Linked DNA regions of Homo sapiens: all the other regions are linked to region 1. The links come from fine-mapping of genetic effects on gene expression. A gene starts in region 1. Each other region holds a variant in brackets. All regions are shown on one strand. Distances are from middle to middle. Region 1 holds the start of UBE2D1 (ubiquitin conjugating enzyme E2 D1). Region 2 overlaps LOC105378316 (a long non-coding RNA gene). Region 3 overlaps TFAM (transcription factor A, mitochondrial). Region 4 holds the start of LOC105378316 (a long non-coding RNA gene). Region 5 has its middle 4.1 kb from the start of TFAM.

Region 1 (6,606 bases):
CATAGGTCTTCACTGTTGCTGCTCCCCAAAGCCCATTTTCTAGTGCCTTCTCTTTTCTCTGTCTTCCCCTTTCCTCTTTGGGAAGCAATTTGTATCTTACGGTTTCAAAATCATTCTCTCACATGATTGCTCTCATATCCATATTCTCAGCCCCATATCTCTACCTACCACTAGGGAAGTTCCACTTGAATACCACATACATTTCATATATGTGTATGTCTTAAGCTCGGTTTACCATTCTCCCCTCCAAAAGCTTATCAATGTTAACACCTTTAACTCAATCCACCACTCATAAATTTAGAGTTCATATTTACTCTTCTATTTTTCTACTTCTGTATGTAATTGCAACAAAGTTCCATGGCTTTTTTTTTTTTTTTTCTCAAAAAGTTCTTCTTTGGGTTTCTAGTGCTATCAACCTTGTACAGGCAGGCCCTTATTATTTTGGTCCTAAATACTGCAATAGTAATTGAACTTGTTTCCCTTTCCTGATTCTGTCCTCATTCCATGTCCCTCCACTAGACTAATTGTCTATTTAATGCATCACTGTCACAATAATACTCTCCTGATACACAACCTCTTGTTGCATTTAAGCTCAATTTCATGTTTCTAAGACTAACAGTCAATGTCCTTCACTATCTGATCTCAACCATTGGACTTAGTTGTATTTCCTTGCTTGGCCTCCATGTTGAGCATTTCATACTTATGTCCATTCCACATGCATTTCCTTACGATTGGAAGTTCTTCACCTATTCTTTTGCTTTTCCAAATGCGTCTTGCATTCAAGTTCTATTGTCTCTACAAAGTTTCCCTTACTCTCCGTCCATGGCAATGCCCTTTTGAACATCTTTAGCCCTTATCCTCTGCACCATTTGTTTTGCTTTAAGGAAATTTTCCTGAAATTTGTTGTTGCTGTTGTCTGCATGACTGACTGACTGACTGAATGAATGAATATCTTGCATTGCTACTTATTTGTTTTATGCATTTATCTTCCTACCATGAAGATTTTAAGTTTATGGAAGGTAAGACCAAATATAATCTTTCTTTTGCATATATTTTACCACCTAGTGCAGTATAATATCCCAAACAGAGATAATTCAGAGGGCAAGGATTATTTATTGACAGTGTGGCCTGATGCCTAGAAATCTGCATTTTTAACAAGTCTTGTACCCTCCTCCCCACCCCATAGGATTTTGATGTTCTGCTTGTGAGTAGGGATCTTGTCTATTTTCTTTATCATGTGTCTTCAGTGCCTGGCATATAGTAAGCATTAAGTAACATTTTTGAATTAGTTATGCAGTTGATCACAAACTATGTTTTGAAACTACATCCTGGGAGAAAGAGTAGGAGATTAAATAACACACTGAACTACTATATGTTGCACATGTATTTGCATGTTGCAAAAATGTGTGTGAAATGTTTTGAAAAGCTTAAAGCAATTTTTTTTTTTTGAGATGGAGTCTCACTCTGTCACCCAGGCGGGAGTGCAATGGCTCCATCTCGGCTCAGTAAAACTGCTGCCTCCCAGGTTCTAGCGATTTTCCTGCCTCAGCCTCCCAAGTAGCTAGGATTACAGACATGTGCCAACACGCCTGGCTAATTTTTGAATTTTTGGTAGAGAAGGAGTTTCACCATGTTGACCAGGCTGGTCTCGAACTTCTGACCTCAGGTGATCCACCTGCCTTGGCCTCCAAAAGTGCTGGAATTACACGCGTGAGCCACTGTGCCCAGCCCATTTAAAGCAATCTTAAAGTGTAAACTATTATTGCAAGATACCAACGTAGATTTTTTTAATAAGTGTTAATTTCTCTTTTGTTGGGAGGTAAACTGCCCTAGGAAAGACAAAAATAATCTTGTAAGCTTACTTTTTAGGTTTCTTTCTATTTATAAAGAAGAGAAAAAAATCACCATTTTTTGTGCAAATCATAGACCTTTGAGTTAGAAGGGCACCAAAAGTTTCAGCTCTATTCCCTTTAAACAAATACAACATTTATTGCATTAGTTATGGGTGAGGAAATTGAGGCTTAGAAGGATTTGAAGATTTGCTCAAGGTGGAGATTCTCAAAAGTGTCCTCAGATACCTGCATCCTAACTTCCTGGGAAGTTTGTTCTAAAGTTTAGACTCCAGAGCTTCACCCAAAACTTACTGCTAAATTAAATCCTTTAAAGGAAATCTGCATTTTTAGGATCTCCTCTTATGCCTTCCAGCATAGTGCTTCTCAAACCCTAATGTTCATCTGAATCACCTAGGAGTCTTATTAAACTGCAAAGTGTGATGTAGCATGTCTGGAGTGGGGCTCAAGATTCTGTTTTTGTTTGTTTGTTTTTGTTTTTCAACTTTTATTTTAGATTTAGAGGCCACATATGCAAGTTTGCTACCTGGGTATGCTGTGTGATGCTGACATTTGTGGTATGAATGATTTTATCACCCAGGTACTGACAATAGTACCCAACAGTTTTTCAACCTTTGCTCCCTCGGTCCCCTCTCTAGTAGTCCACAGTGTCTATTTGTTGCCATCTTTATATCCCTGAGTGATATGGTTTGGCTGTGTCCCCACCCAAATCTCATCTTGGCCAAGAAGCCAAGTTTTAATGGGTACACAAGTGCATAGGAATTGGAGAGTGGGGAGCGTGAGTTGACTATTGGTCAGGGACTGTCAACGGAAGGGAAGGAACCAATGATGGGAGTGAGAGCCCAGAACTCGGTGTTCGAAGTGGGTAATTTATGGGAGGGGCATACCTACGAGCAGACAATGCACTCAGACAAGGAAGATTTGCACATTGGACAGAAGAGACACCTTTTTCCTCTGCAATAAGAACCAAGGAGGTAAGTAGGGGGTCTGATATGAGTTTGTGCATGTGTGCAGGGTGAGTGAGACAATCCATATATTTGAGAAAAGACAGTGAAATCTTTAAAGGTAAAAATAATAAAACCAGCTGTGGCACCTATTGGATAAGGAATTACTAACTGATGATTTAGAAATTCCTTTATGTGCGTTAGGAGCTCATTTGTTATCCCCATTTTACAGATGCGCAGCCCCAGGTTCAGCAATTTGCTCTAAATGAGACTGTAGAGGCTAATTCCAGCCCCCGGCAGCTCTCACCTTAAGCTGCCTGGCTGAGGTCAGCAGTAAGTTACCTGGCAGCGTCCGGGGGCCTGCAGCCGAGGACAGGGCTGGAACTACACTTCCCAGTGTGCCAGGCGGGGCGGGGCGCGGCGGGGAGGGCGCAGGCTCCTTCCCAGAAGCAAAAGCGGAAACAAAAGAGTCTCGCCGGCGTCCCCGCCCGCACACTCGCGCACACTCGCGCTCGGGCGCACACGGAGCAGGGACCGGCGCCCGGAGCGAGCCAGGGAGCGGCTAACCGGGGACCCACCGCGCGGAGCCAGCCTAGCTGCCAGCGAGCCCAACCCGCGACGACCCACGCCCCTGAGCCCCGCAGCCGACCCCTGCCGGCCGGTGTCCCCACCGCCATCCCTGACCCATGGCGCTGAAGAGGATTCAGAAAGTGAGTGCCGGGGCCGGGCCTGGGGCTGCGGGGCAGCGGCCCCCTGCCCACGCTGACTCGGCCAGTGGTCCCGAGAGACATGCGGGGAGAGCAAGGGATGGAAGGGTGGGCCGGGGTGCGGGCAGGGAGCTGAAGGCTCGGGCCGGGCCAGCGGGCATCGGACAGGTGAGGTGGGAGCAGGGTCAGGTCCCAGGCGGCCGGAGGAGCTTGAAGGCTGGGGGCCCGCGCGCGTTCGCGCCGGAGCCGCTCCCGGAGCCCCAGGGTAGAGAGCCTCTTGCGCGTCCAGACCGTCCCGAAATCTGTGCTTCACGGTCACGGCCGGGTTTTGCCCTCCATGGGGCTAGTTTTGACCCCTGTCATGCTGTGTTTTCTCCAGGCTGTTTCTTAAGCCTGTCCTCTTTTATGTTCTTGCTTACCCGGCCTCCCCGGGAGGGCAAGGAAGGTGGGGTGGGCCTGCAGCCTTTCTCCGCGGAGCTGTCGGGTTGGTTCTTTCTCTCCTCTGCGGTTGGCTCTTGCTCAGTTGCCCGAATGGGCTGGAAAGCCCATTTGCGGCCAAGAAGTCAGGAGAAGGCTCCTGCCCCTTCTATTTTGGTGCCTCTGCTGCTGCCACTTCAGGTCACATAGCTGTAGCGAAAACATAGTTGCTGATACACAACAAGATGACCTCCTGGCTGTGATTCACGGTGAGTCAAGCCAAACAGGTTTTTTTCCCCCTCATGATAAACTTAGATGTAAAGTTCGAGACACAACATAAACTGTCGCAAATAAATTGTTTTGATGCTTTGACACATGGGTATAGAATGAGGAAGAAATATATATCTTCATCCAACAACTGTTTACCCATCTCAACCCTGTGTATGGAATCGTCTTTTTTTCACAGTATTTATTGCCACCATTTCAGATGCGAACATCCTTCAGAATTCAGATTCGGGCATTTCTTTCTGTTCATTTTTATTTCTTGTTGGTCTGTGTACTGACCCAAGTTTTAGGTTTTACAGTTACAGTTCACACTGGCAACATTGAGAATGTGTTTGTTAAATAGGGAGTGCTTTTCACTAAGTTAAGCAACAATGGACAGTGTATTTTGTAGTTGTTTCAGAAGAAATTGATGCCCACATTTTTATCCACTTTTTTGACCAGGAGTCCATTATAGCAATAGTATATGTTAGAGCAGTGATAGTGACGTACGCATTGCATTCTGACTCGCCACTGGTGACATCTTTAGGTACAGAGGACAGCAACTTTTAGAGCCTGCCAGTTTTTTATTTTCAAATTCTAAATCTGTGGATCACCTGTTATTTTTTGTGCCATTTAAAGGTCATCTCATTGTAAAACATACAGTTAACAATCAGCATCAGCATTTATTAAGTAATAATGTTTTCTTGTTTGAAGGTAGCGCAATTACACATTGTTTTATATAAATACCCTAATTTTGAAGCCTTAGCATCTTTACCATACCTTGCATACTTATTAATGACGAAGTAATATTGGTTCACATTTGGATCAGAAAATGCACATCTTCCAAGGAAGTTTTCAAATTCTATTTCCTTCTTTCCTAGTTGTGAGAATTTTTCACATGATTTTGCACATACAAGAGCTTTTTAAATTTCATTGTGTTTTTTTAAGAGATGGGGATCTCACTATATTGCCCATGCTGATCTTGAACTCCTGGCCTCCAGAAAGTCTGGGATTACAGACACAAGTCACCATACCCAACTAACAATAGCTTAAGCTGTATAATTTGTCCACAGTAAGTGGATATTCAAAGAAATATGAACATTATTTGTAAATACCACCCTTGGCAGTTCTCATCAATCACCATGCTGAACTAGTGTATTTGATTTATATTTATAATATGGCGTGTGTCCAAATCTTTTTAGTATTTATTGGTTATTAGTTTATAGAATTGTTGAGTAAAAAAAAAAATTACTTACATAGAATTGATATCAAACATGTGACAAATTGATATTTTGGAAAAGAAATTGGGGATGACACACCATCACATCTCTGTGTGTTCATTTTTGGCTTCCCTTTCTGATATCAGGAAAATCGACTTACACAAATCTTCTTTCCATTAATCACACATTCAGACCAATCCCTCAAACCTTAGGGGTGATTATTTTGATTGATTCCCTACTTTTCCTCCTCCTTTACCTACCTCCTTGATTAGAAGCCAATTCTAGGTTAGATGTGCCGCCTGCCGTATGAACAGTTACACCATCTTCTTTGATGTCATCAGTATAGAATTCTTATTTGAATCTTTCATGTTCCAACAAATGAAGATGTATACTAACTTTTGGCCTTTCTTCTTAAGCTCACTGAAGTATTAATATAATTTTCCTGTACCTATAGATGGTGGCAGGCCATAGAGTTGTGTGGAACCTCAGATAAGTCTGCTGTAGTGTAGTAGAGGGTACAAGCAGGGGAACAGCTTCTAAGGCAGTGTCTTAGAATCACCTGTGGGACGTTTTCAGACTGTCATCACTTCTATAAATGGAGAGATGTTGAATCCCTCAGATCGGTTGGGGTGGAAAGAAGACTGAGGACCACTGATGTTCTGGCCTGTCCTTATTCAAGGAAGGATCCAGAGGCCTGGAGTGGAGGAGTGCTTTGTCCAAAGATAATCTCTTTTTTTTTTTGAGATGGAGTCTTGCTATGTTTCCCAGGCTGGAGTGCAGTGGCATGATCTCGGCTCACTGCAACCTCTGCCTCCTGGGTTCAAGCAATTCTCCTGCCTCAGCCTCCTGAGTAGCTGGGACTACAGGCGCATGCTGCCATGCCCCGCTGATTTTTTGTATTTTAGTAGAGATGGGGTTTCACCGTGTTGCCTAGGCTGGTCTCGAACTCCTGAGCTCAGGCAATCCACCTACCTCGGCCTCCCAAGGTGCTAGGATTATAGGTGTGAGCCACCACACCCGGCCAATAATCTCTTAATTGGCTTGGCTATTTGAGAGTGTTAAAAAGTTCATGATTTCACATTTCTTCACTATGAAAAAGAATAAAGATGATTGGATTAAAATTATATGTAAAGACAGAGCATGGAGATATCAATGCTTAAAATATATTTTTATAGTAGAATAAACTAACTATACTAGAATATAC
Region 2 (6,606 bases), 120 kb after region 1:
TTCACCTAGTGGATCCTGCGCAGGGGCCGAGCTGCTGGCTGGCAGAGCTGCCCGCCAGTCCCGCGCTGTGCGCCAGCACTCCTCAGTCCTTGGGCGGTCGATGGGACCCGGCGCTGCGGAGCAGGGGGCGGCACTCCTTGGGGAGGCTCCTGCTGTGCAGGAGCCCACAGCGGGGGGTGGGGCTCAGGCATGGTGGGCTGCAGGTCCCAAGCCCTGCCCCGCGGGGAGGCAGCTGAGGCCCGGTGAGAATTTGAGAGCAGTGCCAGCACTGCTGGGGGACCCGGCACACCCTCTGCAGCTGCTGGCCCGGGTGCTAAGCCCCTCACTGCCCAGGACCTGCGGCGCTGGCCTGCTGCTCTGAGTGCGGGGCCTGCTGAGCCCAGCCCACCGGGATCTCCTGCTGGCCCACAAGCACCCCATGCAGCCCCGGTTCCTGCCTGCACCTCTCCCTCCACACCTCCCCGCAAGAAGAGGGAGTCAGCTCTGGCCTCGGCCAGCCCAGAGAGGGGCTCCCACAGTGCAGCGGCGGGCTGAAGGGCCAGAGTGGAGGCTGAGGCCGAGGAGGTGCCAAGAGCGAGCCAGGGCTGCGAGGGCTGTCAGCATGCTGTCATCTCTCAATTGTGAGGCCTCCTCAGCGACATGGAACTGTAAGTCCATTAAACCTCTTTCTTTTGTAAATTGCCCAGTCTCTGGTATGTCTTTGTCAGCAGCATGAAAATACAGATGTTGAACATTTTTTCATATGCTTGTTGGTTGCATATATGTCTTCTTTTGAAAAATGTCAGACATATTTTTTAGTTCTAGAATTTCCATTTTAAACAACAGTAACTTTTTCTCTGCTGGAGGATTTTCTTCTTTAAAAAGCAGAATTAAAATTCATTATGAACATATTTTCTTCTATGCTTCTGAGGATAGTTTTAATAAAATCCTTTTCTGCTAATTCCAACATCTGTCCAGTTTCCACTGATTGATTGTCTCTGGAATATGCATCACATTATCCTATTTCTTCACATTATTCTAATTATTCTATTTTTTTCTTTATAATTTTGGATTATCCTAGACATTCTAAATGATATTTTGGATTCTGAATTCTGTTATATTCTTCTGAACAGTGCTGAATTTGCTTACAATTAACTTTGCTGGACTCTAACTTCTAACTCAGTCTACCTTGAAGGTGAAATCTTGTTTAACTCCTTTATCCTTAGCAGGCTGTTTAGGATTTGCACTACACACGCATAGCTTAGGGGTCAGCCAGAGATTTGGGCAGAGTTTATATGCAGAATTTGTGACTCTCCTTTCTGGTTGTCTCCTTTCCTGGACTTCTCCCCTCACTTTTAGCTGCTGTGGTGGTTCCCAAACTCTGTTATTTGATATTTCAAGCCACTAAGATTATAGACTTCTATTTGAGATTTAGCCAACTAATGCCTACCCTCAAATAAAGACCCATTAAAGAATAGATAACTCACCCAGTTCCATTTCCTTCATCTAAGTACAGGTCCCCCACTCCAGCTTCTGCCTGCTTTTAGTTGCTTTCCAGTTGTTCCAGGGAATTGGTTTTTTATATTTTGCCTAGATTTTTTGTGGTTATATGTGGAGAGTTAGTTTGATGGGAGCTACTGAATCATTACTGGGAGCAAATAACCTGATTATTGTATTTATTTAGCTTCTGATCAGTCTTAGATCTTGCATGACAAACGCTTACCTTATTTTAATTCTTCAGTGTCTTAGCTATTCTTGTGTAGAAGCTGAAGTCTTATCCAGTATACTTTTCTACCTCTCAGGTCCTTCTAAATGGAAGGAACTGCAAATTAGCCATACCAAAGAGAGGATATGTGGAAGAGAGGAAAGGAAGCTAAACAGCTTCCTTTCTGTGCTGTCCATAAATCCGTACCGCCAGGGATCATAACAATTTGAGGTACCACCATAATATACATATGCATGTCTGGTGTGTTTGGAGAAGGCTGTTTAAACCAGGACTGAACATTTGAGGATAAGAAGCTTGTGGTTGGGAGAAGCAACTGGGAAGTGTGGAAATGAAGACAGAGGTGAGTTAGTAGGCTACTTACTGCAGGAATCAGGTGAGATGAGAAGCTGAGCTAAAGCAACATTAATGAGAATGTAGAAAGGGACCAGATTGGAAAGATAATTAAAAATTGATAAACCGGCCAGGTGTGGGTGGCTCATGCCTATAATCCCAGCACTTTGGGAGGCTGAGGTGAGAAGATCACTTGAGCCCAGGAGTTTGAGACTAGCCTGGGTAACATAATGAAACCCTATTTCTACAAAAAATAAAAAAATTAGTTGGGTGTAGTGGCACATGCCTGTAGTCCGAGCTACTTGGAAGGCCAAGGCAGGAGAATCACTTGAGCCCGGGAGTTCGAGTCTTCAGTGAGCTGTGACTGCGCCACTGCACTTCAGCCAGGGTGAAAGAGAGAGACCTTGTCTCAAAAAACAAAACAAAATGAAAAAACAAGAAAAACTTGATAACCCCTGTGTACAGATTGAAAGAGATACTTATAAGGATAAGAAACATTTTCTCCCATCACTCAAATCACAGCAGGTGTCAACATCTTACTTCGCTGACACATGTAATAATATAGAAAGTCTAGAAAATAGAAAAAAATTATCAAAAATTCCACTATCTTTATATAACTAAAAATGTTTTATCTTCCAGGCCTTATTTAGAAACAAATGTATATGTTTTATAGCTACAACCACACACAAGTTTGAAGGTCTTCGATACATCATAATTTTGCATTATTTCTATCATCTCGCATGAATGAGCAATTTTCATCATGCTGATATCTGTAATTATGTCCTTTTAAATGTCTTACATAGTATTCCATCATTTCATACACCCCAAACTTTTAAACTATTATTCAACTTGTTGTACATTTATATTATTACAACTATAAATAATGTACCACAAACATGTTTATGTATATAGTCTTTCTCTTCTATGGGGGGTATCTCTTTAGCTGTAAGATATCCATGGTGAAAAGTAGAAACATTTAATATTGTTTTATGTATATTGATATTTAGTCACAAGAGCTCTGACATTGTAAAGCCCCAGAGTGATATGTGTGAGAATCTTTGAATTTCAGATAATTACTGAGAGAAAGGACTTTGCTTTGTAGCTCCAGGAGCTAGTACTGTGGCTAGGCATATTAGACCAGTAATAGCTGTGTTTTGAATATGTAAATCAATGATTAAATGAATGATTAATTCACTTGTCTTGTGATGAGAGTTTTAAGATGTTTCTTGCCATCTGGATGCAGTATGATTTCAAGTGTCCCCTCTGATACTGGCAAGGTCTGGAGAGCCATTAAGACAAAGAGTTTACTCCTGTGAGCTGGGTTCTACGGAAGTCTGGAATGCTGCCCTGAGAACACAATCTGCAACAGTATCTGTCTGAGATTTTTGGTTTTGTTTCCTCCACCACTATAAACCCAAGCATTTCCA[T/C]GGGCTCCCTTCTGAAAAAGGGAAGGTGATATTTCCTGGCTGAAGGAGACTTTCCCATTAATGTTTTACCTCAGTGTAGCAAGCACGCTAAGCTTGGGTCAGAATGTTTGAATGTTTTGGCTCTGTTCTCTTGTGGACTTCAGAAAACAACTAAGTTCATTCTCAACTTAAACTGGATCACTGTTTTTGTTTTGTAATGATTTTTCTTGTAAAGGGAGAAAAATAATTTTGGTTCAGATCAAATTGTAAAAAAAAGTTTAAGATTTAGCTGATCAGAATAAGGCTTTTGAGATGGAGATTTTATATCAATATCATTTGTGTTTTTACTAGCACTAGTAATTACTATTTATAGCACTCTGTGCCTGTCCCTGCTCTAGTACATTTTTTTTTTACATTATTTAACTTACTTTAGTCATCTCAGCAATCCTATGAAGTAGATATTACTTTCATTTTGTAATTATCGGGAAAATGATGCTTACAGAACTTAACTCACCTGCCCATAAGCACACAGAATTGGTAACAGTCAGAATTGAAAACTAGATCTGTCTGATATCAATATGCTCACACATCCATTTGATTTTTGTTTGTTTATTTATTTATTTATTTTGAGACAGGGTCTCATTCTGTCACCCAGGCTGGAACGCAGTGGTACAATCTTGGCTCACTGAAGGCTCACAGCAACTTCCGCCGCCCAGGTTCAAGCAATTCTCCCACCTCTGCCTTCCAAGTAGCTAGGATTACAGGTGCATGCCACTCACTATGCTAGGCTAACTTTTTTTTTTTTTTTTTTTTTGGTAGAGATGGAGTTTAACCATGTTGGCCAGGCTGGTCTCGAACTCCAGACCTCAGGTGATCCGCTCACCTCAGCCTTGCAAAGTGCTGGGATTACAGGCATGAGCCACTCACACATCCATTTGAAAAGCACTTTCACATAAATTTTATTTTCTCATTCACAGTTGCAATACTGGGAAGAGGGCTGTGCTTAGTCCTGCCTGGCATAGGTAAAGACAGAGATTTACAGATTATGTGTTTTGCCATCCAAGGTCACACTGGAGAGAGTTATCAGAGTCAGGGCATAAATGAAAACCTTCTGGTCTTCATCCCGTACCCTTTCCACTCTTCTCACGGACTCCCTAGAGATTTTCTCTCTCAATCTCTCACTTTATGTTTGAGCAAATGGAAGCCCAGAATATTGCAATGATTCATCAAGGTCATACAACTAGTTAGCAAACTGATGCTAGAGGCTGGATTTTTTGCCTCCCGAGCTAGCGTCTTTTCTGTTAGGTCTATGTAGCAAACAAAACCTGATTGTTAAGGAATGTTCAATGTGAGTTACAATCCAAGCCAGGGAAGACATTAATATAGGCCATCCAGTACAGAGCCCTTCACTCATCATTTTCATTTTTAACAAATGTCCTCCCTCATTTGAGATACCCAGTTGATGTGCTCATCATCAAGTATGCACTGAAATGATGAGTATGAATGTGTCCTGCACTGGGGACCAGCCCCGAGTGGGTCCCCCATTGTCAGTATATGGAGAGTCTCAGGAATAGCAACTCTCCCTTCCTCAGTGTAGACCTCGAAACAGCCAAAGTAAATAGAATTTTCCACCTCAACAGCTGTATTTATTTTGGGCTGTTTCTCCACCTACAACGCCCATTTGCTGTTCTCAGAGCTTCTGAACCTGTTTATTTTCAACCTCCCAGAGGCAGCCAGCTGTTGTATTCCCATTTCAAGGCAAAAAGAAGTCAACATGTTCTTCTGGAGGGAAGCAACCCATTTTAAGATCTTAAAGGATATCACCCAAAGGAGAGTTTACCAGCTGTGGATATTTCCTGAGCAAGACACTATTCCTGCTCTCAAATATCTTATTCAAGTGGCTTAACAGATGTAATTGGAGACAGAGCTTGAGCGCTGAAAATTACATAGTAATATAAAAGAGCTAGGGAGCAATATGAGCTCGAGATTTAAGTGATGTCAAGTGAATGTGATTGAGCAGAGCCTCCCCATCAGTAGGCTGGATTAAGCCTATAGGAATATTTTGTTTGGGATCCAAGTTTGTTTGTGTATGTGTTTGTTTTTCAGTGAGCCAATATTTAAAAATTGAGAGACTTTACCTAAAAGTCTGATTTCTGGCTTCGTTTGAAATACCAGAAGATCTGTCAATACGTGTTTGTCCTTATTGGGGCACCAGTGGGCTGGTGTGGTGGGTGTGTTAGATAAAACACACCCTCCTCAGTTTGCCATAAGTACTCCCTATTTTCTTTCCAATGTTGAGGCCAACTCTTAGTTGCCTTGTACCTTCACAGTTGCAGTGTTGTTTTACTTATTCTCATTCACTTCAGTTTTGTGCTGGACCCCATGGGCATGTGAGTATTTCAACCCTTTTGGGGTCATTAGTGCCTTAAGGGCTGGTATGGATGTCGCCTTTGTTGAATGCCCATTATAATATAATAAGCACTGTACTAGACATGTACCTCATTTACTACTCACAGAAAACCCTACCAGGCAGACATTATCATTCTCACTTTGCAAATGGGAAAAATGAGACTCAGCAAGGGTTTGATATCAGCTAGAAGTCATCCAGTTCACGAATAGCTAGGATTCAAATGCTAGCTGGCTAATTTCCTCCTTCATAGATACTGCCTCCCAGAGAACTAGGAAGTGACAAAGTTGAGTCTTGAACTCCAGCCTAGTGAACATTCTAAAAAGTCATACTCTATCACAGGCACACATTTTGCTGTGTGCAAAGAGATAGCTAGCAAATACCTCATGATGAATCCAGAGGACCTAGAAGAAAAAAACCACTTCCACTAGGAAATGACTCAATAACCAATAATAACTTCTGAAAAGAATACACTGTAATTGTCCTTAAATTGTAGGTAGACAAACCCATCACCAAGGAGTTGGCATGTGCTTCTGGGATAGATTGAAAATTTTGGCAACAACAGGGTATTGAACTATTAGAAAATACCATTTGGGTATTTCGATGAGAAGAATGGAATCTGTGAAGATGCTAAACAAAGACCATAAATTCCATACGGTTTGGGCAGATAAAGAAGTAGTAAAACCTATATTCTAAATTCTAAGCCAACCATTCCTGGGCAGTGACCACTGGAAGCTGGACCTCAAAGCCTGAAGCCT
Region 3 (6,606 bases), 64 kb after region 1:
CCTAAATATATTTTAAGACGAAACATTTGTTCTATAGCTTTTCCCTTTTTTTAAGTAAGGAATTTTATTTTTTTCTGAATTATTTTCTCTCGTGAGTATATTGATCCAGAAAGAAAACTTGTATTATGTGTGTTTTAAAATGAGAAATCTAAAAAACGAAAAGTCTCCAAAGTCTCTGGAATTTGAAACACTTTGCATAACGTATAAAAGCCTGTTTAAGAGACAGCCAACTATGGCCTGTGGATCAAATCCAGCCTGCTGCCTGCTTTTTATGGCCTGTGAGCTAGGAATTGTGTTTATAATTTTAAATGTTTTTTTTTAAAGACTTTTATGATACTTGAAAATTAACATGAATATTTAGTGTTCATAAATAAAGTTTGTTGAAACACAACCAAGATCATTCTTTTACTTGTCTATGGCTGCTTTTCTGTGGCAGAGTAGCTGCCACAGAAACTATAGCCCACAAAGCCTGATATTTACTGTCTGTCTGTTTATGGAAAAAATTTATCAACCCATGGTCTATAGTATAGTGTGATATGACTACTGTTCCAATGTATTGAAGTGTTGGGATAGTTTTTTCAAATGTTTTCAGATGTTCTTGTTTTAGAATCATTGTCACCTTTAAGAGGAAAAAGGTCATCACTAGATAATCTAAACAAATTGTTGCTTCTCAGTGTTAGCAAGGAAAATAATCTAGTTTCAAATTACATTGCAGTATAATGAAAAAGATCCATATACTGTGGAATGATATTCTTTTAAAATTATTTGCTATGGCTTGGTAAAAATGTACTTTTTCCAGTAGCACATATCACAAGAACCTCACTGTAGTTGAAAGCCATCTTTCTTTAGTATTTGTTTATCCTTTTAGGAGAGTCAAGCAAAGGTTTTCACCACCTGTTTGAGCAGAATAATTCTCATCAGTTCACAGATATAGGATAACTCAATTTATATGCACTTTATGCGTTATGCAAAATATTTAGAAATTGTAGATTCTAGATCTCCAGAAAGACTTTGAAGACTTTGATGTCACAAAAAGATGACTTGTTATATGCTGAGCTTGACAAAGGTAGGAATGGGAGAGAAAAATAGTAGCTTATGAGGAAATATGAGGCTTTAAATATATAAAGTTGGATATTTTAAAATAACTTTTCCCTGTGGGAGCTTCTCACTCTGGGTGCAGACAGGACAGTGTTGGCCATTGGTGAAATAGATAGGATGGGTTTGAGGCCAGAGCAGTCTGGGAGTAGGGGGAAAGAGAAGGAGGTGTGCTAGTGTCTATCACAGGCTTTCTCAATTAGGTTTGCAGGAGAAAAAGCCCTAAGTCCCTGTGTCATCTAGAATGGTACTAATTATGTACAGTCCCTAGGAGAATGGAGAAAATCATAACTCAAATCATCGACTCAATTCTGTTCTCTTCAGATGAGCTCAGAGAGCACATAGGAGTGTTTGTAATGAGGGGTATGTAATGATTGAGATAGAGGAATGAGTTACATAAACATCTCGGGACAAATGCAGCATAGAAAACATCTTTGTAGTTACCCTGCGGGGAAATTTCCTCTGAGTTCTTTTAACATTAACTACCCGTATTATTTTATACTTAACATTCATATCATACCTTCCCAAATATATTGGGAAGTTCAGTGTTAAGTACGTTTCTCAAGTACTTAACAACTTAATATAGGGAGGAAAGGTGTAAACAGTGAAAAAAGAGCAAAACTATTTTATGGTAATTTTATGGTAGTATCAGCTTGTATTTGGTTCTCTGTTTCTAAAATAATGTAATTTTTAATATTTTAAATAATAGGATAACCTGGTTTCCAAGCCTTTTTTTCCCCCGACATCCAGAATACACACTGGATCCAAGCCTTTCTTAAACATCAGTACATGTGGAAGACTGGCATGCCATATACCAAATGCCATTCAGCTGTAACAGTATACACAGATTTTCTCTTATAAAGAATAAGAACATCATAACCAATGACCACTCATATAAAGTCTTATTTGTGTGTGTGTGTGTGTGTGTGTGCACGTGTGTGTGTTAGAGTCTCATTATATTGCTCAGGCTGGAGGGCATGGTGTGATCTTGGCTCACTGCAGCCTTGA[C/T]CTCCTGGGCTCAAGTGATCCTTCCGAGTCGTTGGGACTACAGTAGGTGAACACCACCATGCCTGGCTAATTTTTGTATTTTTTTTTTAATCAAGATGGGATCTTGCTATGTTGCCCAGGCTGGTCTCAAACTCCTGGCATCAAGCGTTCCTCCTTCCTTGGCCTCCTTAAGTGCTGGGATTATAGGTGTGAGCCACCATGCTTGACCATAAAGCCTTACTATTTCTTTTGGAGACACAGTCTTGCTCTGTCCAAGCTGGAATGCAGTGATGTGATCATGGCTCACTGCAGCCTTGAACTCCCAGGCTTAAGAGATCCTCCCATCTCAGCCTCCTGAGTAGCTGGGATTATAGGTGCAGACCATCAAGCCTTGCTATTATTTTTTAGACTTTTCTTAATTTCATCCAACAAAGTAGTTGCTGTAGGAGCTGAGTGTTAGAAGGAAAGATGCTGAAGAAATGAAATCAAGCAGGGTGTATACTGTCATGAATAGGCATACAGTAGTTTTTATACTTTTGTTCTTTGGAGTACCAATGTTAGGTTTTACAAAAGTAATTTGATGAGGGGAAGGAGGGTTGTGTATTTATTTTACTTTCTGATGTTTGCTTAAATAATACTGTGTACGTATTCAGCTTGCTGTAATTCTGTAATTACGCTATTGCGTTTGGCTAACTCCTTTTTGGAAATGTCTTTTTTTTTGTACAAGGCATGTGTTAGTTTTTACTAATTGCTCTGAATGTGTATATTTAGATTTCTGAATTGAAAAAAAATAGCGTACAATAAGTAGATTTAAAGTAATTAGAACACTTTATTGATTTTTCTGATGTTTTCTGTATCTAAAATTTATCACCACCAGGTTGTGCTAAAACAGCAGGAAGTTTTTATATTGTGAGTGACAGTACCCATTATTTCTCTTAATTTTACTAACATTTACTATAAGAATATTCTCTCGCTCTTTTCTCCACTCACAGCCATTCTCCCTCCTTCTCTTCATAACATCAAGCTGTCACAGACAAATCTGAAAATGTTACAAGCACAGACTATGTTGTATGTTTTGAAATTTTAGAACAGTAATGTTCTTTTTAAAATTGAACTTCTGCAGAGTAAGAAAATGAATACATTTATTACTTTAAATTTGTAAAATTTTCCAAAGTAAAACCATACAAAGCTAGTGTCAGTCTCTCTCATTGTTCACAAATAAAGGACTTTTGTTAATTGATTAAATCACTTACTATATTCGATATGAAATATATAAAACATACAACCATTATCTAATACATTTCAGAATGTTTCACTGGTTACAGGAGCCAGTAAATAAAGTTGACTCTAAACAGGAATTTTAAATAAACTAAACATTTTTTCATCACCAAGCATCATTTATATATTGGTTTCTGATTTACATATGTGATGTCTAAGAAAATCTCTGACTTTATTCTTTTTTGCCTGTATTAATTTAAAATTTATCCCATTTCGTCTCCCCCTTCCCACAAATCAGGTATACAATGGGGGAAGAGGGAAAGGAGTACATAGTTTTGACACAGTGACCTTTTATTATATAGGTTACCAACTGCTAGCCTTCATATTTTTAGAAAGGGCAGTTTTGATTAGACCCATCTATGAGGTTCTGTTTTTTTTTTTACTGGAAATTTCATGCGTTAAATGTTGGGTAGGATTAAGTGATGAGACGACGGGTCCAAATGTATTAATCACTGGGAAGTGTTGAAGTATTACCGACCATCTTACTCATTTCTTTATTTTTTCCTCTCAGTCACCAGTCAGAACAGGTCATCAGTAGTTGTGTAACTAAGATGAACAGGAACTTTGGTGTCAGGGGATACTTAGTGATGCCAGTAGTTTTTCCAAGCTTGAATTTATACTGTGACTATCAGGCAATATTTAGATGGGGGTAATGGAAACTTTTTTAAAGTATAGGAATTTTCTCCTTATGCTGACATAAGTAACATCTGATGCTGTAGAAGCTTAGTATCAAATATTAATTGGACTGAAATAGTTCAGAATATTTTCCCAAAATGATTTCCTCCCACTCAGTTTTTACTTTTGCAGAGCTTCTACTTACCATTTGTAGTAACCTGAATGACAATAAAATGGTGAAAAAAAGATTTGAAATGGTGAAACCGCCTTCTTCCAGATATCATTCAGGTGACTAAAATGCAAAACCAAGTACAATAGACAAATAATAGCAACACTAGAAAACAAGAAATACTACCGTCAATAGAGCAGCAATTTCTAGGTATTTTTGGAAGACAGGAGGGACATAGGGATTGACAGGTGTTTGTTGGTGTCAGTGTGAGCAAACCACGTAAGCTGAGTGAAGCAGAAATGGAGAGGTCTCACCAATTCTGAGTAGTGAGGGCTAGTAACAAAGATTAACCCTAAGGTGGGTGGACATGGGTGTGTGGTGGCTGGTTCCTGTAGTCGCAGCTACTCAGGAGGCTGAGATGGGAGGATCACTTGACCTAGGAGTTCAAGTCAAGCCTGGGCAACATGGCAGGACCCTATCTTTAAAAAAAAAAAAAAAAAAAAAAAGGCCCTTAAGGTGGTTGGAGAGAAATTACAGGGTGCATGGGGCAGGAGAGGGGTAGGTATCAGTAGACGTAAGGTTTGCTTTTTTCTCCCCAGTGAATATTTTACTCAAAACTGAGGAAAGTAGAGTGATACGCTACTGCAGAATAGGTTTTTTGTTTTTTTTTTCAAGCCGGGTGCTGTGATTCTTGACTATGGCTGAGTAGAATCAACCGTCAGTGCATGCAGATAGCTGGGCCAGAATCTGGAGGGTGGAACTGGCCATTTAAAAAAGTTCTTTAGATTTAATAATGTGGAGCTATCATTGGTGGGAGTAGTATTATAACTCAGAGCTTCCTAACTTCCTAAGCTGGCAGTTCAGTAGTGGCTGATAATGAGTGAATCATGTATATGGCAATCTTACACTTGTTATTGTATGTCTTTTTTATAGCCATCCTAGTGGGTTTGAAGTATCTCGTGATTTTGATGTGTTTACATTCTGACTAATGATGTTGAGCATTTTTTTATGTACTTCTTGGCCACTTGTATTTCTTTGGAAAATTATCTATTCCAGTTCTTTGCCCATTTTGAAATGGGTTATCTCATTTATTACAGTTTCAGGAGTTCTGTATATATAATAGACATAAAGCCACTATAAAATAAATTAATTACAAATATTTTCTCCCATTCCAGGAATTGTTTTTTCACTTTATTGATGGTATCAGTTGCAGCACAATAATTTTAATTTTGATGGGGTCCAGTTTATCTATTTCATTTTGTTGCTTGTGCTTTTGGTGTCATATCCAAGAGACCATTGCAAAATTGAAGATTATGAAGATTTACCCCCAGTATTTTCTTCTGTTTTATAGTTTTAGCTCTTGCATGTAGGTCTATCCATTTTGAGTTAATTTTTGTGTATGATGTGAGATAGGTGTCTAGCTTCATTCTTTCACCTGTGGATATCTGTTTTCCTAGCACCATTTGTTGAAAAGATTATTTTTTCTCTGTTGAATTGTCTTGACACCCTGGTGAAAAATCGATTGACCACAGATCTATGGGTTTATATCTGAAGTCTCAATTCTATTACATTGATTTATATGTCGTCTTTATGCCAGTATGACATTGTCTTGACTACTGTAATTTGTTATAAATTTTATAATAGGAAATCTGAGATCTCCAACTTTGATTTTTTTGAAGATTGTTTTAACTACTCTGGATCTCTTTCATATTCATCTGAATTTTAGGATCAGCTTGTCAATTTCTGTAAAGAAACCAGCTGGGTTTTGATAGGGATATATTGGATCTGTAATTAAAGTTGGTGCTTTTGTATATTAGTTTCTAGTATTCTGTGTCATCAGTGGCATCTTCATATTAACTTGCTTATGGCAGATTATAAATTTGTTCTCTACATAATTTTGGAGCATGATTGTGGGCTAACCTGCCAGTGAGAGTGGCTGCTGTGCAGCTGACAGTCTTCTATATTTGTGGAAAGGCAGGAGAAACAGCACGTTCAATTGCCTCGTGTTAGGATGGACAGAATTCGGTTAATTCAAGAGATATTTGAGAAGTTGAATCCACAGGACTTGATAATTGATGGAGTGTGAGAGATAAGGTAGAGAAAGATAGAAAAGGTTATGCTTAAGTTTCTTTGGGCAGCCAAGATGGGGAATGTTGAAGAAGGAGCTGAATTCCTTCAATTTGATCATTTCTCTACCTAGACCTATAGATTTCTGGTCCCTCTAGGTTATTGTATCCAGGGCTCTAAAGGCAGAACAAGGCTAGGATTTAGGATGCAGGCATGCATACAAAAATATGTTAAAGCTGGAAGGGTTGATAGAGTTACTACATTAGGCATAGCCAAGGCTTTATTTATATAGAGACAAACATAAGAGCTCTGAATGCATCCAAAGAAATCAGAGCTTGTATCCAAGGACATCAATGCTATTGGGGACAGAAAGGTGAGACATCAGTACTGTAAGT
Region 4 (6,606 bases), 100 kb after region 1:
TATGAATTTGACTACTCTAAGAACCTCATACGTGAATTCATGCAATATTTATCCTTTTGTTTCTGGCTTATTTTACTCAGGATAATGTCTTCAAAAGTTCATCCATATTGTAGCACATACGAGAAGATGACTTTTTAAAAAGTTTTTAATTAAAACATAACATAAAAAGTGAAAAGTGCATAACTTGCTCACAACCTGAACACATCAGGGTAAGTAGTGTCTACATAAGAAATGGAAAGTTACTAGAAGGGCAGAAGACCTCCCCATACTCCACTCCTAACCCCCGAGAATAATCTCTATCCTGACTTCTAACAGCGTAATTTTGCCTAGTTTTTAACTTTACGTAAATTAAAGCATACAGTATTTTTTTTCTATTTGCTTTTTTTGCTCAATATAATGTTTGTGGTATTCATCCATATTGTTGTGTGTAGTTATATTTCTTTCATTCTCATTGCTATACAGTATGTTATCATGTAAATATGCCACAATTTATATATCATTATATTGTTGATGGAGACTCAGGCAGTTTCTGGTTTTTTGTTAATATCAATAGTCTTGCTATGGCTAGGCATGGTGGCTCACACTTGTAATCTCAGCACTTTGGGAGGCGGAGGTGGGTGGTTCACTTGAGGCCAGGAGTTTGAGACCAGCCTGGGCAATATAGGGAGACCCTGTATCTACAAAAAATTAAAAAATTGGCCAGGTGGGCCAGGCATGGTGGCTCACACCTGTGATCCCAGCACTTTAGGAGGCTGAGGTGGGCGGATCACAAGGTCAAGAGATCAAGACCATCCTGGCCAACATGGTGAAACCCTGTCTCTACTGAAAATACAAAAATTAGCTGGGTGTGGTGGTGGGCGCCTATAGTCCCAGCTACTAGGGAGGCTGAGGCAGGAGAATCTCTTGAACCCTGGAGGAGGAGGTTGCACTGAGCCAAGATTGCGCCACTGCACTCCAGCCTGGCAACAGAGTGAGACTCCATCTCAAAAAAAAAAAAAAAATTAGCCAGTTGTGGTGGTGCACAGCTGTAGTCCTAACTACTTGGGAGACTGAAGCAGGAGGATTGCTTGAGCCCAAGAGTTTGAGACTGCAGCAAGCTGTGATTGTGCCACTGTGCTCCAGCCTGGGCAACAGAGGAAGACTCTGTCTCTATAAATAAATAAATAAATAAATAAATAGTACTGCTATGAACATTCCTGTACATGCCTTTTGGTAAACATATGAATGGATTTCTATTATATATATTATGTATATGCTATATGAATATATCATATAAATGTATATATGCATATATATATATTCAGAATTAAAAATGCTGGGTCACAGAGTATGCCTATATTAAGCTTTAATAGCTTTTCAATGTGGTTTACCATTTAGAAAGGGTCATTTAAGCTGTGGCCTGAAAAACGAAATGGAATGGAAGCTGCATTGAGATTTCCACACTAACATCTCCCTACTGCTATGACAAAAATGTGACCTTTTATAAAGTGGTTAGAGTCAAATGGGAGAAGTCCTTTGCCTCTTTTTTGCTGTGGTCTCCCAGTACACTTTAGTGTGAGGAGCCTCTGTCATTTTGGTCAGACCCAGGGAGTCAAGAGATGATGACTGATGACTCAGCCTCCTCAGCTCGGCTTCCCAGAGCTCCACTCACCACATCAGTGAGCCTGGCATGCAGGGGGAGACATAAACACAACCATGGTGTTGATATCAATCCTAGCAGAGATGTCACAAGCCAAGGTCTGGGAAGAGGAAGAATGAATCAGGATAAAACTTCAGTGGAAAAAAGACCAAGTGAGAGACTTAAAAGTCACGACTAAAGAATTGTGTAAGTAACAGTGGCAAATGACAACAAAAGGCCTCTACAGCTAAAATAATCAGTGGTACCTGTTTCAGATCCCCAGGCTTCTCTGTTTTTGGGAGGTCTTAGGATGCAGGGCTTTGCCAATTGTGTGGCCTGGGATGACAGCCAATTGATGGAAGCTGGAATTCAGGGCTTTCTTCTCAACAGAAGTTAAAGAAGGCAAAAAAAAAAAAAAAAACCCAAACAAAAAATCTGGCCACAAGTGATGTCTATCAGTGTTGTGTGGGTGTGAGAGCCTGCCCCTTTGTCTTAATAGAGAATAGAAACATACCTGAGGAGGAGCCCCAAAGGCCTGATAGGAATGGGTCATTTTGAGAAAAAGTTTCCAATGGGAAAGATAAAAATCTAGTTGTTTTGCCCTTCAATGTTTTAGAGTTTCCTCAGAGCACAGAGAAATCTTAGTTTGCTTCTCCTTAAGGTACTGCTCATAAAGTCCCGTCTTTTAAAGAAAAGGAACAGAGTGAAAAATGATTGATGCATCAAAGTGAAGTTTCCTTTTCCAAACATGTGTCCGTAAGTTGCTGATCTGGGGTCCCTTCAGAATTGCATGCTGTGTCTTTAACCCATTTCCTGTTTGGAAAAAAATGTGGCTCACTGCCAGCACAGTGTTCTTGGGGCAAACGGGAAGTGGCTTTAGGTAGCCAGACAGGTATGCAACAAACTACCTTTCATAACAATGCCTCAGGCCAGAAGGGATTGGGTCTCATGCCAAAAATATCTTTTGATTATCTTTCTTTAGTACGTACAAAAATTGAGACTTAAAAAGTATTTCAGGGCCACCATTTTAAATTTCAGTCGAATGTTCATGTTACTGATTAGAGTTGTGTCTGTAAAAAGTATTAAAGATTGAAGTGTGTTTCTATTCTGTAACAGTTGCATATGTGTGTATTCTAACAGAATTTCTTGTATGAAATAATTGTCTTTCATTTATTTGTTTCTCTTAAGAGTTCTCAAGGAAAATACAAGTTAAATTAGTTAAGAAAATTCTGATTGGTTGGGTTTCACCTACCTGCAATATTGATTTCTCT[A/C]TATATATGGATAAAAGAAGTCAATTTAAATATGTTGACCCATGTGGTCCAGTTTATATGACATTCAAATAAACACAACTTTGAACACCAAGACTAATTGGAAAATAATTCAAATATTTACCAGGGACTCTTGAAGAATGTCAGAAGAATATCTAGCAGACATCCTAACAATTATTTCTGCATCTTTCTTTCTATTTCCCATCACTCTGAAGTTTTTTTTCAAAGACTTGCTCAACTCACAAAATCTCTTTCTCATCCCTGCATTGCACTCAGGGTTCTGGTCTTTTTCCTCCCTCTCTCCCAACAAAACACAAAAATAAATAAATTTGTCTCTTTATAAGATTGAAAAAAAAAATCCCAGTCTGTATCTTATCTTCCAGTTATCAGATCTTTCTACCCATTGGCCTGATTAGCTTCACAGAGTCCTGGAGACAAGCTAGCAGTCACAGAGAGGGAAGATTGTGAACCCTTATACATTCATGCTTATGGTCCCAGTTGCACAATAATTTTAAATACAATTCATACAACAGGCTATTTCCCAGTCACTAAATGACAAAACTTTCTTTGCAATAAGAGGCAAGGCCAACAGTGACCAAAATTCACATTTTTGAAGACTGGAGAAAGGCATGAGGGAAGAGGTGAAATGTGGTATAAAATGAATAACATCTTTGAGCAGAGGCGGCATTCTGCCTTAGACCCTCCTCTTCCCCTCCTCTCATGACATCACACGTGCCGATGCTTTTCCCTAGAAGCCCTATTTCTTGAAATCTGAGACCATAACCCAACAAATCATTCCCTTGAAAGTTTACTTACTTTTTGATGGTTATTTGATATGAAGAAGAAATCGAAAAGAGAGCAGAACTTCAAGGTTGAATTTGGCCATTTCCATGCTAATTCATATTGGTGCCTGAGAGTGTCCTCATTAGGATCTCATTTCTCTGTTAATGTCAAACAGTATCTGATCTCTGCCTATCCAAGGGCTGGTATGGGCTTAATGCCAGCATTTAATGCTGGAATCTAAAGCTGGGACAGGTAAGGTGCTTCGCCTGCAGCATCCAAAGATCAGAGCAGGCAGAGAGGAAGTCTAGGAGCATACACAGTAAAAACGTATAAATAATATGATTTGATAAGATACAAGCACAATAAAAAGTTAGAAAAGAAAAATACTAAATACACGTTAAATGTATACATGCTGAAGAGATTGCCAGATAAGAGTGTTTACATAGCGTAGTGGAACAAGTGAAGAAATGTTTCCTTAGAGAATAATATATTAAGAAAATGTCCATGTCACCTGTATTGGTTCAGAAAGAGTTATTTTTGAAAGCACCTGGTTGTCTTAGGATTAAACTGCCTAGCCCTTAGGGAAGGAGACAAGGGCCTGTTCATTCATTCATTAACTCATAATATATTAAAATTGTGCTTGCTATATACTAAGCACAGTATTAGGCACTAGAAATAGGGTATGGACTATGACCAACATGTTGCTTATCCTCTTGGAGCTTACAATATAACAGGGAAGATAGACCTTGGAAAGGTTATTACTCATTCAGACAATGAATGTGTGCAAAGACAGTGATGATGGAGAAATGCATGGTGCTATTGAAGGCATTATGGAAGAATATGACCAAAAAAGAGGACAGGGTCGCTTTCTTATCAGTGAATATCAGCTGAGCAATTCAGGTGCCACTGCTTCCACCTCTGGGCATGGGCTTTCTCCCTTGCTTGGAAAGAATACATTAACATCAGATTAAGCAAAGAGCTCATAAAATGCATGATGGCACACTGACCAATCAAAACATACCAAGCATTCTTTTCCAGAGGATTGGGAAAGAGATTCATTTTGAAATAATTAGCTGGCAATAGGTTCAACATGAAAAAAATAAACATTAAGCCATAATTATTTTTCAACAGAACTGGAGACTTATTCATCTACTTTCTGAAATTGTATATCTATTTCATAGCACTGGAAGCTCAATACTATGTTTAATGTTCTGAGGGTAAAAACACGATGTCTGTTTTATTTCACAACATGAATTGAAAGCGTTTGTGGGACAGGATGTTGTTTTGGTTCAATAGGTTGTTCAAGATTCCTTAGGAGTTTTATCCAGTAACTGCTTTCAGCTTTAAGAAATTAATGTTTCCATTTGGTTTTCAGATCCAAAAACTGCATAAGCAGATTTTTCTGTTTTTGATGCCTTATCCAATTGCTAGTGTGGTTTAAGGTAATCAATCATATAACTGAGAGTTAAAGAACTCTGGCTAAGAGTTTTTACACAAATAAAACTTGCATTGGTTTGATTGTGGATGGTGCTTGTTCAAGGACTGTAGGAATAGGTTGTAGTCAAACCTCAGAAATGTTCCAGATTTGCAGCCCATGCACTGGTTGGGAAGGCCATACCTTATGGTTCAGGTAAGATACAGGCAGGGCTCGTGCTAGGAAATGAGAATACCTGATGGGAACAATAAAGTTACTGATTCTCTTGGCTGCCCAGCAAGTCTCTACCTGTCCCTCATGAATCTTTCTGCCAAATTCCAGAAGGAAAAACTCTCTTTCTCTGGGATATCCAGGGAAGATGGAGGTTCCTTTCCAGCCTTCCTTTCATCACAAATTTACTAGTCATATACTGTGGCAGGCACTAACAGCACAAAGACATAAGATTATAATCCCAAAGAGCTCACTGTCTAATAAAGGAAAATTAGCATAAATAAAATACTTGCAATGCAGTATAAGTACAATGCTAGGAACATTCATGTTATATTTTCAACCAGGAGACAATGCAATTAGCAGTATCAGGATTCAGGAGAGAGAAGTGTGGCAAAGAATACTGCATAGAAGTGAACAACAAAGTGGGGAAGGGAAGGAAACCCTTCCCCAGGGTTTGTATTTAGGAATACAATGAAATTAGTCAAGGTGGTCACAGCCTATCTTCTTTCAGGACCCTTTTCCCCTTCATAGGTCTATCATGCCTATCTTCCAGTGCTCAATACTTTCCTGTTGCCCTCTAGAGGCCCAGAGTTCACCACTCTGGAGTCCTATCTACCTTGATCTGCCCTTACTCGGACCAGTATTGTCACCTGTTCTGATCTTTCTCCAAAATTTTATGCTGACTCACTGTATTAGTTTCCTTTTGTTGTGGTAACAATTACCATTAATGTAGGGCTTAAAACAGCACAATTTTTTTATCTCATTGTTTTGAAGGTCAGAAGTCTGAAATTATATCATTGGGATAAAAACCACGGTGTCGGCACAGCTGCATTCCTTTCTGGAAACTCAAGGGGAATCTATTTTCTTGTCTTTTCTAGCTCCTAGAGGCTGCCCACATTCTTTGGCTTGTGGCCCCCTCCCATCTTCAAAGCCAGCGATAGCCAGTCAAGTCCTTCTCACATTGTGTCCCCCTAGCTTTGCTTTTGCCATCACATTTTACCCTGACTCTTACACTCCCACTTCCTCTTTCACCAAGCACCCTGTGATGACATTGGGCCCAGCTGGATAATCCCGGATACTCTCTCTCTCTCTCTTTTACAGTCAGCTCATTAATAACCTCAATTCCATCTGCAACCTTAATTCTCACAGTTTCTGGGGATTAGAATGTGGTCATCTCTGGGGGTGACTGTTATTCTGCCTACTGCACCCACCTTCAATTCTACTATCAATCAAAATTTACTTGTATGTTCTTCAATGACTCCTCATTAGCTAAAAAGTGAACCTAATAATTG
Region 5 (5,828 bases), 46 kb after region 1:
AGAAAATTACACTATATTTTTTTTCAGAAATTTAGCTCTTTAGCCTCCTACCCAACAAAATTAAAACTTTGGCTCTTACTTGAGGGGGAAACTAGTTGTATGTTGAGGTTCCTTAAGTCTCTAGTTTTGTCACTCCAGCTCTGTGCAACCACAAAAAACTCTGTCCTTCAGCAGTGCTCCTCTGCCTGCATAAAGCCCAAATTCTCAGCCTCTAACCTGTACTCCAGGAGAAAAATGACCACAGATACTCAGCTCACCTCTGAAAGTCTCATGACTTCTGCAGCTCTCTCACACTTTCTCAATTATAAGGTTTTATTTTATGCAGCTCTTCTGATTCTCAGTGGAATTTCTTGAAGCAGAAATCTCTACCTCTTCATTTTTTGATGGTACTACCACAACATCCTATCTTTTCCCTACCCTCAAGTCCATCATCCACAGAAGTGTGAAAGTATTCTAACCCCAAATCTGATCTTGTGGGTTATCAGCTTTAACATTTTTAAATAGTTCCCCACAGACTCAGCAGTGGTTTTGCAGAGGGACCTACAGAAAAAAGAAGGGAGATGCTAATGGTTTAGCCTTTGGACCCTGACTTTAACTTGGACCCACTTATAACTTCAAACAGTGAAGCTCATTTTTATCTGATACGTATATCAGGACCCTTTGGGTTCTCAGGTTCTTTCCCCTTGTTTAAATCATGAACCAACAGAATAAAGTATCAAGTCCTTAAGACTCTTGTGGTAAATTTTAGCTTGCATCTCCAGTCTCATCTGCCATTCCCGACTCCCACCAAACTGCCTGCAGTTCTCACTGGATCCCAACCTCTCCCCACTTCCAGTATAGAATGGTGCTTCTCATTCTCAGATTTTGGTCAAATTGTACATTCCGCTCAAAATGCCCTCTTTCCCTATCCTTTAAATCTCTAATTTTTATGTCACTCCTTTTCTTAGCTGTTGAGGTAATAATAGTTCTCATCAATGTTACCATGATTCCCAGTGTGCATCTTTATGCTTGCTGGGATCTACAGTGTCTGGCACACAAGTACTTAAATAGTTGTTCACTAAACAAATGAATGAACTAGGCTTTGGAAGATACTTAGGGTTCTAATTGGCATATTTAAGTAGGGAAGGCATTAATGAAAACAGGAGAAGCCAAACAAAGGTAATAAAGTAGAAATAAGTGAGAATGGCACTGGCAGTCCATGTGCAATGAATGAGAGAAAAGATTAGGTGGAGAACATAGATCTGCTGGATATGAAATCTTGGTTCGATAGCAAGTAAGAAGTGTGTAAGTTTTTAACCAGCCAAATGATATAATGAAAGCATTTGCTTGGGGATATTCACTTAGCAGAGTATGCAATTGGAATTGGAATAGTCTATCAAGGTAGAATCCTTAAAGTCATTCTTGTGTTCTATGTACTTAACCAGTCAATGGAATCTTGCCCATTATACTTAGGCCTTTGGAGTATGAGCCATGGCACCATGTTACTTCAGAATCTCAGACCCTCTTTCCTGGATTACAGCAACAGTCTTCTCACACCCATCATTCTCTGTGCTCCTACTAAAGGGATTTTTATAAAAACAACTTAATTGTGCCTGTAACCTGCCTAAAAAGTTGTTTGGCTATATTTTCCTAACAAACTTAAATTATACATAGTCCTTTACAACCCAACCCCACTCAAATTTAAAGAGGTTTGTTTCATACCACTCCTTTTCACATATACCATGCCCTCATAAATATCTGTGACTTGCACATACTGTTTTCCTTTTCTGGAAGGCATCTCAACCTTTCCCCACTCGAAAAAACAGTTCAAATGTCACCTACTCTATGAAGCCATCCCCTGCTTTCCCAGGTAAATTTAAATGGATGATCGGGCCTTAATCGTATTTGTATGTATTATTTATTTATTTTATGGAGACGGGGGTCTCACTGTGTTGCTTAGGCTGGTCTCGAATTCCTGGGCTCAAGTGATCCTCCCCCGTGAGCCACTGCACCCAACCATATGTACTTTTAGAACTTAGCACAGTGTCTGGCACAGTATTGGCCTCTCCTAGGAACTGAGTTTTTAAAAAATTATCACTAAAAGATGAATATTACTATTGTGTTTTACAAGAAGACTAAGATAATATATAAATTAAAAAATGAGTACCACCCATGCACTCCTGCAATACTCAGATACAATCACTATTAAACCAAATTTTGTGTACTATTCTGCACTCTTACTTTTGCACGCACACTCATGCATATGTGTATGTGTAGTTCTTTAAATTCAAACCTATGTTTTTGGGTGACTGAATACTTTTTAAGAGAAAGGGTCTTGCTATGTTGCCCAAGCTAGATTCAAACTTCTGGGCTCAAGCAATCCTCCTGCTTCAGCCTCCCAAGTAACTGGGACTACAGGCATGTGCCATTGCCCTGGCTTAAGATATTATTTTAGTAAGCCACTCAGATAAATAAGAAAGCATTTATGGGGACTGGAAATAATAGAATGTGAGCAGGTGTTTAAGAAAACTACCGCTTCATGACTGATTTACCTATCCTGTATCTACGTAGAGTCATATATAACTTCAAAGCTGCAAACTGTGGATTCAGAGGTGGCAATTTTTGTTATTAACATGCTAACAAGGAAGATATCCTTCCTATTATTTATACAGTTTTCATAGCTGTACAGTAGAAATCATAGCACCTTAGAGGATTTATGAAAGGATTAGTGATAATGTATGTAAAATACTTGGCATGTAGTTTAGCAATAAATTATAATTATTACCATTTGTATTGATCAGATACTTTACCGTGGTATGAGGGCAGACACATTATATTGTCCTATTAACAGCATTATTCCTTCAATACAATCATTCTGGATTTCTTCCGATCTTTAAGTTAGCTTTCAGTAATATGAAGTCAGCTTTCAGTAACATCCAGTAATATGAATTGGGGTATTATACATTTGCATAAAATTATAGCTGTTCTTTTTGCTTGTCCTACCTCCTGCTGACTCATAGAATCAGCTTTAAAATAGACAAGCTACATTTATTTTTTGTAATGCTGCTACAGCAATGGCTTAAAATAATTCTGATATGCCCTTAATAATTAAGGCTGCATGCAGACTTTGTTCTAATTGAGAAATATTTCACAGATAATAATAATTTCGGGTAGCTGGGAACTATTAACATGCAACAGGTCTTTCTTCTAATTTCTCTATTTCTCTTTCCCTTCCTTCTTTTTGTATATTGATTTTAAAGGCAAACTCCAGTGGCATGAAAACAGACTCTATGTCAATAAAAATGGTTTGAAAGAAAAAATTATACAAGTAGTTTTCCATACATAATTTATTAAAATCTTGACTCACAGAAAAAATAAGCTAGGAGATATTCAAGGTGTAAAATTTTTTCTCATTGCTGCAATGCACTGTTATACTTTTATTCCTTTTGTGTCTTTATGCTTTGTTCCCCCAATCACAGTGTCAGCTCTTTGGGGCAGGATCAATATCTTATGCTTTTTGTGCCCCTTTCAAGTGCTTATCACAGTGCTTTGTAATTGCTTATGAGGAAATTGTCTTTAAATGTGGTGTCCATAGTATGATCTTATTTCCAGAGATATTTTACTTACAAGTTCAGAATCACATCTATTTATCCTGCTAAAACCTATTAGGTAATTGCTCCTGTTGTAGCTAAATTATTTATCTATTATAATTACAAAAGCCAAGACTGCTTTCTCTTAGCAACATTTTTTCTTCATTTGAGTGATATCTGTGCATCTAACTCCATTATTCAGCAGGGAATTATCCAGGTTTCTGGCTGCTCCTGCTGTTTATTGGCACTACCTTCTGCTTTACCAATGTGCAAGTATCAATGAACCATAATCATTACTTTCATGTGTATATATATTTCAGAATTTTACATGGTTTCCATCTCCACACACTGGCAAATGTGTCCTTCTATTGGCAAATGACACTT[C/T]TAACAGGTAGTTGTTCTCTATGGGGCTAAATTTATATATAAATAATTTGTGCAGATGCTAATCTTTTCACACTATTCATCTCTCTCTGTGTATCTATATGTCTGTCTGTCATCTATTATCTATCTATCTATATATCTGTCAGTTCACCTATCCATCCGTTTGTCCCTTCATCCATCTATCATGCTCAGTGTACTGTGCTAGGTACAATAGGGGATAAAAGAAGGCATAAGATTTAGTCTTTTCCTAATATAACTTACCATCTATTGTGGAAAAAAATATGTATACATAGAGAAAAAGATCAGAAACCAGAGTGGTACATGATGTCACAAGTAAGTGATGTGAGCTCACACACTATAGATGATCCACTAAAGATATTTTGGGCTGGAATGATGTGGCATGTTCACTGAGTCTGAGTGATCTGATACAAACGAAAAGCACAGGACAATGAATTGCAATTTTTACCTACACAACTTACTGTTGGAAGCTTATGAGTTGGGCTTTCTGAACTTCATTTTTCTCATCTGGAAATTGGGAATAATGATCATGACAATACCTTCTCTACCTTTTCCTTTGATATTTGAATCATACAGTCAAATAAAGTTATTTAAAAATTTCTGAAAATATTAAAGTGCAATCCAACTTCAGGGTGTGTTGTTTTAATTTTTCATCAACTACCACAATGTGTCTGCTCAAATATTACTAATTTAAGAAATATTAAAAGTTCAACAGGAAGAAAGGAGCAATGCTGGTTATGTAATATGTATGTTTGCATGTTAACAGGAAAAGAAAAATTTGTCAGTAGCATGAAATCTGCCAATGGTGGGAGTATTTACACCATAGAACTCAGCAAACACCACAAATTGGGGCTTTCTTTTTTGGAGAGCTATTTACCAGCATATTACTGGCCTGAACAAAAGCAACAGCAATGGGACTAGAGAGAAGGAAATACATACTAGAGGGATGAATGAGGCAGAATCAGCAATACTCATCATCAGTTGGTTAATGGCAGGTGGAGTGTCAATGGGGAGATTCTAAAATGATTTATCAAGTTATTGGCTCAGATGATTAAAGAGGAAAACATGTGCATCTTACCAAGAGAAGGACTTCAAGATGGGTGAAAGATAGTGGATTTTGTTCAGGGAATGTTGAAATTGAAGTACTTGTGGGACATGATGGTGAAAATGTACAGAAGACAGTGGTTATGTGGATACGGAACTCAAAGGAGAGGACTGGGTTCAATATGGCAGTCATGAGGCTATAACTAATAGCTGAAGTCATGGGACTAGAGAACTTTACAACAAAGGGACCCTGGGAAAGGCTGCAGTAAGTCTTCATGTTTTATAAAGTAATTATATACCATGTCTTTTTGTTAAAAGACAGTTTTAGTGGATAAAGTTATGTTTCTTTGTAAATTCTGCTTTTAGAAGTAAAATTATCACTGCAATGTAAATGAGTTTTAAGGAAGATTGGTATCTGATGAAAAATGTTATGGATTTGATTTTTAAGGTCTTTACAGCAAGATTTATACAAATGAAAGTCGAAAACAACAAAAAGTTTAATATCCAAAAGAAGTTTATGTCAAACATTTGAAAGAACAAAAACATTCTAGAACAAAAAGGGAAACAAATTATTTTAGAAATCAACTTAAATGTAACTTCTGTCTGAGCCCCATGTTGTAATTATTTGCTACTTTGCCTCACCTTTGGGGCTGGGGGCGGGGGGTGGGCTGGGGCACAACACTGTGTCTTTTATCTATGTTTAGGGCGTTGTACATAGTATATACTCAGGAAAAAAACCTGTTTATTCCATGCCAGAATGGGAGGTTTGAACAGATGACTTGGAAGGTCCCTTTCAACCCTGGGAGTCTATAAAAG

What was found. PIP is the estimated chance that this variant, and not a neighbour inherited with it, causes the effect.
Region 2: its variant is fine-mapped to the expression of UBE2D1 in whole blood (INTERVAL, PIP above 0.99).
Region 3: its variant is fine-mapped to the expression of UBE2D1 in whole blood (TOPMed, PIP above 0.99).
Region 4: its variant is fine-mapped to the expression of UBE2D1 in whole blood (INTERVAL, PIP 0.93).
Region 5: its variant is fine-mapped to the expression of UBE2D1 in whole blood (INTERVAL, PIP above 0.99).

What each region holds. Positions count from the first base shown.
Region 1 is chr10:58,331,722-58,338,327 of GRCh38, forward strand. It overlaps UBE2D1 (ubiquitin conjugating enzyme E2 D1), which reads left to right and starts at 3,285. Exons shown (of 7, transcript NM_003338.5): 1 at 3,285-3,504. The coding sequence starts at 3,481. RefSeq lists enhancers at 2,949-3,449, 3,048-3,342 and a silencer at 3,150-3,669.
Region 2 is chr10:58,448,190-58,454,795 of GRCh38, forward strand. All of the region lies in intron 1 of LOC105378316 (a long non-coding RNA gene), which reads left to right. Among named protein-coding and RNA genes, the nearest start is that of BICC1, 61 kb to the right of the region's middle. The variant T/C (reference allele first, on the strand shown) is at 3,463.
Region 3 is chr10:58,395,748-58,402,353 of GRCh38, forward strand. It overlaps TFAM (transcription factor A, mitochondrial), which reads left to right. Exons shown (of 7, transcript NM_003201.3): 7 at 1-3,473. Among named protein-coding and RNA genes, the nearest start is that of TFAM, 14 kb to the left of the region's middle. The variant C/T (reference allele first, on the strand shown) is at 2,104.
Region 4 is chr10:58,433,833-58,440,438 of GRCh38, forward strand. It overlaps LOC105378316 (a long non-coding RNA gene), which reads left to right and starts at 94. Exons shown (of 5, transcript XR_945984.3): 1 at 94-209. The variant A/C (reference allele first, on the strand shown) is at 2,890.
Region 5 is chr10:58,378,403-58,384,230 of GRCh38, forward strand. No RefSeq gene overlaps it. Among named protein-coding and RNA genes, the nearest start is that of TFAM, 4.1 kb to the right of the region's middle. The variant C/T (reference allele first, on the strand shown) is at 3,954.